Regions from separate parts of the Homo sapiens genome. Here region 2 is linked to region 1. Evidence: fine-mapped expression QTL. Tissue or cell type: whole blood. Region 1 holds a variant in brackets; the other region holds the start of a gene. All regions are shown on one strand. Distances are from middle to middle.

The links. PIP is the estimated chance that this variant, and not a neighbour inherited with it, causes the effect.
Region 2: it holds the start of PWP1, and the variant in region 1 is fine-mapped to the expression of PWP1 in whole blood (INTERVAL, PIP above 0.99).

The regions. Positions count from the first base shown.
Region 1 is chr12:107,708,978-107,713,218 of GRCh38, reverse strand. It overlaps PWP1 (PWP1 homolog, endonuclein), which reads right to left. Exons shown (of 15, transcript NM_007062.3): 12 at 4,203-4,241; 13 at 3,987-4,108; 14 at 2,709-2,814; 15 at 57-1,108. The coding sequence ends at 999. LOC124903010 (a long non-coding RNA gene) reads left to right here. Exons shown (of 2, transcript XR_007063446.1): 2 at 789-837. Among named protein-coding and RNA genes, the nearest start is that of PWP1, 25 kb to the right of the region's middle. The variant C/A (reference allele first, on the strand shown) is at 2,019.
Region 2 is chr12:107,683,537-107,687,777 of GRCh38, reverse strand. PWP1 (PWP1 homolog, endonuclein) reads right to left here and starts at 1,979. Exons shown (of 15, transcript NM_007062.3): 1 at 1,807-1,979. The coding sequence starts at 1,878. RefSeq lists enhancers at 1,641-1,690, 1,911-2,170.

The DNA of each region.
Region 1 (4,241 bases):
TCTGGGCCTTATTTTAATACCTAAAAGCCAAATCAAAACAAAGAAACAGAATACTCTATCCTTTAATCTCTTTAATTCACACATCTGTCTTTTGTATAAAAAGGTGTTTTGGTGAACCCACGTTGCTACACCAATGACATTCCACAGTATTAACACTAGAATGACTGAAGTCACATTCATGAAATATACAGGAAATATCAATGGTTCATGAACTGATTACTCTTCTGGCAAGTTAGGGTTGGGTCTCATATTATCAAACTAATTACGATTTTTAATGCCTACTAAAACTCATACTTAATAGGAAGACAATCTATAATTAAAACTGTCCCTTGTTAGGTGGAGAGCAAAGACTTATTCACACTGAATCTCCCATGCCTTGTATAGCACTAGGCACAGAATGGCATTCAGTGTTTTGAGAATGAATGAATGGTCTGCCTCTTGTCTTTGATAACAGTGAATATCATGCTAGGAAAACAGGGGCATGTAACTTTTACTTATCAAACTCTACGAGTTGCACTGAGAATACTCAATCATGAGCATTAATTTGAGAACAGTTAGGAATGAAAGTGGAGTCTCTGGGGCACTTGCCTCTGTTCATGGCCTCCTGTGCAATTTTAGCCAAATAACAGCCTTTCCAGGCCTAGGTTTACCTATCTTTTAATATTACCGGATTTTACGCTTTAAAAATTCTATAAATTACTACCTATTTACAAATCTAGATTAACTGTGACAGATGGTATGTTTAAGGAATTACTTTTTAAAAATCCTTTTTATTACTCTTTTTTAAGAAATGCAACAAGAGCCTTACAAACCATCCATCTGAAGAGCAAGCACAAAGACCGGATATTTGTGGTGCCACCGCAGTTGCAGAAAGGAATGTCAGTCAGAAATGAATTGTGTTTCAGTCACTCTGCATGGTTGCTGCCACGCATGGAACATTTTTAGGCCAACTTTTTAAAATTCCCAGTTAAGGTAAGCAGGAAATTAGATGATCTTCATTAAGACTCCATGGGTGTATCTGAGCTCCTGCTGCCAAAAGGGCCACTAATAGATGAATTTCTTGCACTCCCAAGAACAAGCCTCTCTCGTCTTCCAAATGCTTCATTTACTAAAATACAAATAAACAGGTAAGAAACTAACAGATCAGGAAATTAAGTCAGAATATAAAAAGACACTAAAATGCAGAATTGTGCACTTAGTACTTTATAAATGGTAAAGTGAGTAACCAACTCAGAAGTCCAAGTTAATGTTCTGAATGAAGTGAATTATTTTTTTAAATGGTCCAATTTATTTTTGTACTTTACTTTCTTTGCCATGTCTTGGATTTATCTGATCCGCCTTGGTAACAAATGTCCCATTCCTTATAAGTGACCCTCTCCTGGCCTTATTCTACTTCTGATTGCTTCCTATTTTTTTCTTTCACTTTTCTCTGATCATAACCGGCACAGAACTTTTCGGACTTAGGACTCACACACATCAGAATAACCCAGAGAAAAATCTCAGGATCCTTGTTTTGCATGGGAGGGAGGATGCAGGAATCATACAGTGGGGAGATATATATATTATCTCTGTGTTTGTAGAACGCACCAGACTACCTCAAAGTAATAAATAAGCAGCCAGGATCCCCTGAAGGGAGAGGAGTGGCCCCTTCCGGAAAGTTGGATTTTGTAGAATTTTATAGTTGAGCAAACGGTGGATTTATTCACACTGGTAACTGTGGGGGAGAGGGCTGTTTGTTGAGACCATGCTATATTTCTTTCCAGCTTTCCCCAAAGATCTTTCAATTTTAAGATATGTATTTGTTAAATTGCTGGGAACAAGCCCCCCAAAATCTGGCCATAAACAAAATCTCTTCAGCACCGTAACATGTTCATAATGGCCCTAACGCCCAAGCTGGAAGGTTGTGGGTTTACGAATGAGGGCAAGGAACGCCTGGCCTGCCCAAGGTGGAAAACTGCTTAAAGGCATTCTTAAGCCACAAACAATAGCATGAGCGATCTCGATCTGTGTCTTAAGGG[C/A]ATGTTCCTGCTGCAGTTAACTAGCCTAACCCATTCCTTTAATCCGGCCTATCCCTCGTTTCCCATAAGGGATACTTTTAGTTAATTTAATACCTATAGAAACAATGCTAAAGACTAGTTTGGTGTTAATAAATATGTGGGTAAATCTCTGTTCGGGGCTGTCTGCTCTGAAGGCTGTGAGACCCCTGATTTCCCACTTCACATCTCTATATTTCTGTGTGTGTGTCTTTAATTCCTCTAGCGCCACTGGGTTAGGGTCTCCCCAACCGAGCTGGTCTCGGCCTTAAATGATCTACACTTAAAAGTGTGAAGACAAACTTATTTGTGAACATGAACAAACATTACCAATTACATCTGATCTTGTCTCTTTCCTAAAAAGACTACACTACTTTTGCTATCTTCCTGATGTAGTCAGGACACACATTCTGCACTTGGTCTTAGCCAAAATGCTGAGAAACAATTCAAGTCACACATTCTGTGTCAGTCCTTACAGAACTCATTCAGAAAGAGGAGAGGCCAGCATGATGGCTCACACCTGTAATCCCAGCTATACAGAAGGCTGAGGACCAAGGATTGCTTGAGGCCAGGAGTTTGAGACCAGCCTGGGCAACATGGTGAGACCCTGTCTTTTTTTTTTTTTTTTTTTTTACAGGGGCAGGGGGAGGTGTGCAGAGAACTAAAAATCCTTACCTGAAGAGACTGTGCTTATATCCCAGACCCGAAGCCCTTCTTTTTGACCTCCAAAGGCATAAATAAATGGCAAATCAGGGCAACATGAAGAACAGAAGAGAACTCCCTAGAGAGAGAACAGGAAGATGGTGATTTCAATCTCTTCAGAAAGCGCTAATATCTAGATCCTCACTGTTGTCTCTAAGAATCTATGATTTAAATGGTTATTCAAAACCAACTTATGATTCTCACTTTCAAGCCTACTGCAAAGGTAGCTCAGAGTCAAGTCAGAAGGGCTAGTACTACAATATGAAGCCAGACAAGCGCAGCATGCTGGTTCTTCCACAATGATATCTGCAACTTCTGACCACTCAGGCCACTCATCTTCGTTATCACTCTGTCTCTTAGGGATTTCCTAACAAACCTAATGTGCCATGTATTTCCAGAAACTTTAGCTGTCCTTTTAAACAATAACAATGATGCCAGTTTAAATCATTTTTAAACTTTGTTTTCTTTTTTACATTTTTATTAATAGGTAATATATATTTGTTATAGAAAATATGAACAAGAAAAATATATGAAAATCTCTCAGGGAGGTAACCACGGTTTATGTTCTGGGATATAATCTACTAGAGTTAAATGTAAGCATTTAGGCAATTATGCACTTAAAAATAAGCATGAGATGGTACTACAAAAATTGCTTCTGTAACCTGTTTTTCCATTATATTTATATATATTTATTCATACACAATTTTCAACAGCTGTGCAGTGTTACTGTGTCTGCAGTCTAACTTATATAACTCAGTGGTTGGCATACAGTAGGTGCTCAGTAAATATTTCTTGAGTGAATCTGGTTATTTCTAAATTTTTCCTACTATATAGTAATTTGTTTCAGTGTAGTCAGAACTAGTTATGCAAAGAGATAAAGATACATAAACTGACCCTAATAGCTACGGTGCCCTGAGGTTCAAGATTTCTTGGGATGGTCTTGATTTCAGGGTTTTAAAAAAAAAAAAAAAAAGCAGCCATTTCACTTGTGTCCTAGAAAACCCTCTCCCCAGCCTTACCAAGCAACTGTTAATCATGTGAGTTGGAAAAGAACCAGTCACTGAATTCCCCACAAAGCGTTCTAAGTCATAAAATCCCACCAAATTTGACTAAACTCAAAATTCACTTCCCCAACACATCCATATTTGTTAATGCAATAGTTCCAACAGAAAAACACGCAACACAAGTTCCAGAAAAAGACAAGGTCAGAAACAGAATAAATAAAAAACAGATACCCAGGGAGATTCTTACCATTTTCATGTCCCTAGAATGAACTAGACTTGGCCTATCTCCTAAGATGTCCCAGATCTTCACGTATTTGTCAGCTGAAGCAGTCACGAGACAGCCCTTGATTTGACTGCTAAGATCAAGACCTAAAGGAAGATAAGTTTAGACACTTTCGCTTTGAAATACAGATTTACTTCATCATAAGTTAAGAAAAATGAAAGAAGCATTACTCTTGCTCACCAGAGATTTCATCATTGTGTGCATTAAGTGTAAAAATTG
Region 2 (4,241 bases), 25 kb after region 1:
TTACAGGCGTGAGCCACCGTGCCCGGCCTTAATTTTAATTTTTAAGAGATGTGGCATGGTCACAGCTCCCTGCAGCTGTGAACTCCTGGGCTCATGCGATCCTCCCACCTCAGCTTCCTGAATGACTAGGATTACAGGCACGAGCCACCGCAACTGGCTTGTCCAATTTCTCTCATTTGGTCCAAGTTTTCCTTTCTAGGATTTCATAAATTCAATCTCTTTTTCCTATAAACTCTTCAAATAGTGGTTCCCAGACTTATCTGTACATCAGAATCACCTAGGGAATCTTAAATAATTTAGGCTACACTACAGGCTAATTACAACACAATACTTGGGAGTGGGACATAAACATCAGTATTTTTTGAACCTCCCCAAGTGTGAGATTTTCAATGTGTAGATTCATTTGGAAATCAGTCTTCAAGTATTTGAAAGGCTATATGTCTCTTTTTAATAACTGTTTCCTCCAACAATTTTTATATGAAATAATTTTCTGTCCCTATTCTATAAATGTAACACCGAGTGCCTACCATCAACCAAACCCTGGAGAAACAGTAAATAAAACAGTCTGTGCCCAGGTGGAATTTACAACTACTGGGACTACTCCAATCCGTCATTCCTGTTAACTCCATGTCCAAGCCAATCACATTCCTATCACCATCATCATTATCTTGGTCAAGTACATTCAAATCAACCCCTTTTACTGTTTGGTAGAACTTAACTCCCACTGACATACTATATGTGCACATGTCGACTCCATAAAGGCAGGGTCTTTTTCTATTTTTTTTTTTTTTTTTTTTTTTTTTTTTTTGAGACGGAGTCTCACTCTGTTGCCCGCCCAGGCTGGAGTGCAGCTGTGCGATCTCGGCTCACTGCAAGCTCCGCCTCCCGGGTTCACGCCATTCTCCTGCCTCAGCCTCCCGAGTAGCTGGGACTACAGGCATCCACCACCACACCCGGCTAATTTTTTGTATTTTTAGTAGAGACGGGGTTTCACCGTGTTAGCCAGGATGCTCTCGATCTCCTGACCTCGTGATCCGCCCGCCTTGGCCTCCCAAAGTGCTGGGATTACAGGCGTGAGCCACCGCGCCCGGCGGGACTTTTTCTATTTTGTTCATGCCTATCCCAGGACCCTGAACAATGCCTGGCCTACAGAAAGCACTTAGTATCCAATGAGGAAATTACTTAAGTAATCGTCACCTCTGCTACAGTCTCAGTCTCCAACTCTTGTAGGTTTTTCATGTGTTAGACATTTACCTCTCATCCTCCCTGCTACCATCAACATCTCACTTGGATTACTGCAAGAAATTCCCTATTCATCTCCCAGCCTCACGACATCTTAGCCTCCACACCAGTTTTTCTACACCACATTCATCCTCACTCCTTCAGACACGGAGCACAAGAGTGGAAAGTGGAGTTTTCATGCTCTCTTCCCAGTTATGCTTGAAAATGCACTTGGGTGCTAGTGAAGCTAGTGGTGTTGTCAAAAAGCCTTTTGGGGTATTACCCACCAAAAACAGCAGCCCACCCCTTTCCGGCCCGCTAAGTCCATGTGCGTGCGAATTTGGGAGTGGGGTTGGGCTTGAGGGTGGGAACAGTGAGAAGGCGCGGCCCTTGACTCTCCAGGCTCAGGCGAACCAGACCTTCTGAACTGCAGCTCTAGTCGCGACAATCCGGGCAAAGCCGCCCTCACCCCAGCCAGTCGCACCAGCCAACGCCCCGAGTTCCGGGTCCACGTTCCCCCAGCTGGGCGGACCCCCAGTGCCGTAAAGACGCTGCTCCCCTTGTCTCCCAGCGACCAGGCCTCACCTTGTCTGGTGTCTCTTTGGCCACGCCGCAGCGGACCCAGGCCACGCACGTCACCTGGCGGCTGCGGTTCATGGTCCTCAAGTCAAGGGCGTGTCACGCTAGAAACCAGGCTGCATAGGGAGGGACCACGACCGCACTGCTGCCACACGCTCAGGGATCTGCACAGGGCCGCTGCCAGGGCAGAGCGCATGCGCAGGCTCCTGTTTGGGCAGCGTCGGCGCTCATTTCAGACGTCATTCTGAGGCGCCGAATGAGAAATAGGAGGGGACAAAATGGAAGCGGAAGCAGCCGGGCGAGGAATCCACGTGGGCTGGTCTGGGCTGTGTGAAGTATAGAGAAAAGGCTTTTCAGGACTGCATGTGACGATGCCTGCGGGCTTTGTAAAGGCCAAGAAAATATTTGGGACTGTAGGGGTCAGTCAGAAGCAAAGTTTCACCAATCTTTATTTTGCTTGCAGTTCCGTAGACTTCAAGCTGACAAATGGCAGAGGTTTGTGGTTTGCGTTTTTTAAAAAGCTTTCTCCAAAATGAATTTGTCGTTTCACGGAGATCCCACCATTACATCTCATTACATCCCTAAATGTTACTTTCTCACCTTAAAACATTTAGCACCAAAAAAAAAAGTGAGAAAAAAACATTTAGCACCAATTATATACTAACTATGCAGTAGTGATTTAGTCTTGGCAAACACAAAGGGCTTACTTATGTTGAAGGCGCTGTTTTGAGTGCCGTATCACGTGATTACTTACCCCTTTGTGGGAGGTCTTATTTCCGTTTTACACCTGGGAAAACAGCGATCCTTCCAAAGGTCACACTGCTAGTAAGCGGTGCAGCTGGGATATGAACCCGGGCAGTGTGACTCCCTTGTATCTATGTCATGCTTCTCAGCTAAGATCAGTCATCTGTTAGAACTCGTGAGTGGCTGGACGTTTGTAGAATGGAAAATCTCAAACTAGCATCCCAGAAAAATCTGGGTTTTGATCTCTTGGCTGTGTGGCCCTGTCCTGGTCATTTACCCTCAATGCATCTACCTCTGAGAGAGGCAAGCAAAAGAAACAGGAAGGTGGCTGCTATGGGGAAACAGTGGCAAGGATAAACTGGCAGTACACATGGTCTTTCCCAGTGGCATTGTCAAACGGGGGGTGTCCACCTGTGGGCTCTATTCGGGGACCTTTTTGCAACACATTTATCTTTCTATACAGTATTTTACTTGGTTCTCACAACACTTTGTTTTAAAGATGAAGCTAGAGTCCCCAGTAGTCAAATACTTTCCTACTCAGATCACACACAGAGGAGCTGATACAACTATGAGTTCTGTCACCAACTCTACTCAGCCTAATGCGCTTGGCAATCTCCCTGCCTGAGGAGAGATCCTCCCAGAAGTAAATTGCTCATTGTTTGTGTAGGCAGATTATTTGTCCATTAAGACTTCTCCCCCTGCTCTGTTTCTGTAAGATGATTCTTCTGTGGTTTCTTTGCTTTTAACCCATTTTAGAAAGACCATATGGCAGATAATATTTTTCAAGGATGGCTGCAACAATAGAGTCCTTCACACATGTTTGTCTGCAACGTGATCTTGATATTCCTCCATCAAAGCACCCCCCCCCGCCCCCACCAACTTGAATCTGGGTAGTTGTAGGTCTGCTTTGGCCAATAAAGTATGACAGAAATGATGTTTCCAAGGTTAAGTCATAAATAGGATGCAGGTTTTGCTTCCCCACCACCACACCCACTTCTCCACTTCCACACCCCCCACCCACTCCCCCACTGCCCACCAGTAGAACACTAATGTTTGGAGCCCTGAGCCACCATATAAAGTTTGGCTACTGTGGTAGTCTGTTCTCACACTGCTAATAAAGACATACCCAAGACATGATAATTTATAAAGAAAAAGAGGTTTAATGGACTCACAGTTTCAGTTGGCTGGGGAAGCCTCACAATCACTGCAGAAGGCAAAAGAGAAGAAAGGCATGTCTTACATGGCAGCAGGCAAGAAGAGAGCATGTGCAGGGGAACTCCCCTTTATAAAACTATCAGATCTCAGCTGGGTGCAGTGGCTCATGCCTGTAATCCCAGCACTTTGGGAGGCCGAGGCAGTTGGATTACAAGGTCAGGAGTTCTAGACAAGCCTGGCCAACGTAGTGAAACCCCGTCTCTACTAAAAATATAAAACTTAGCCGGGCATGGTGGTGCATACCTGTAGTCTCAGCTACTTGGGAGGCTGAGGCAGGAGAATCACCTGAACCCAGGAGGCGGAGGTTGCAGTAAGCCGAAATCGCACTGCTGCACTCCAGCCCGGGCAACAGATCAAGACTCTGTCTCAAAAAATAAAAATAAATAAAAATAAATTAATTAATTAATAAAACCATCAGATCTCATGAGACTTATTATCATGAGAAAAGCACAGGAAAACGCCGCCCGTATGATTCAATTACC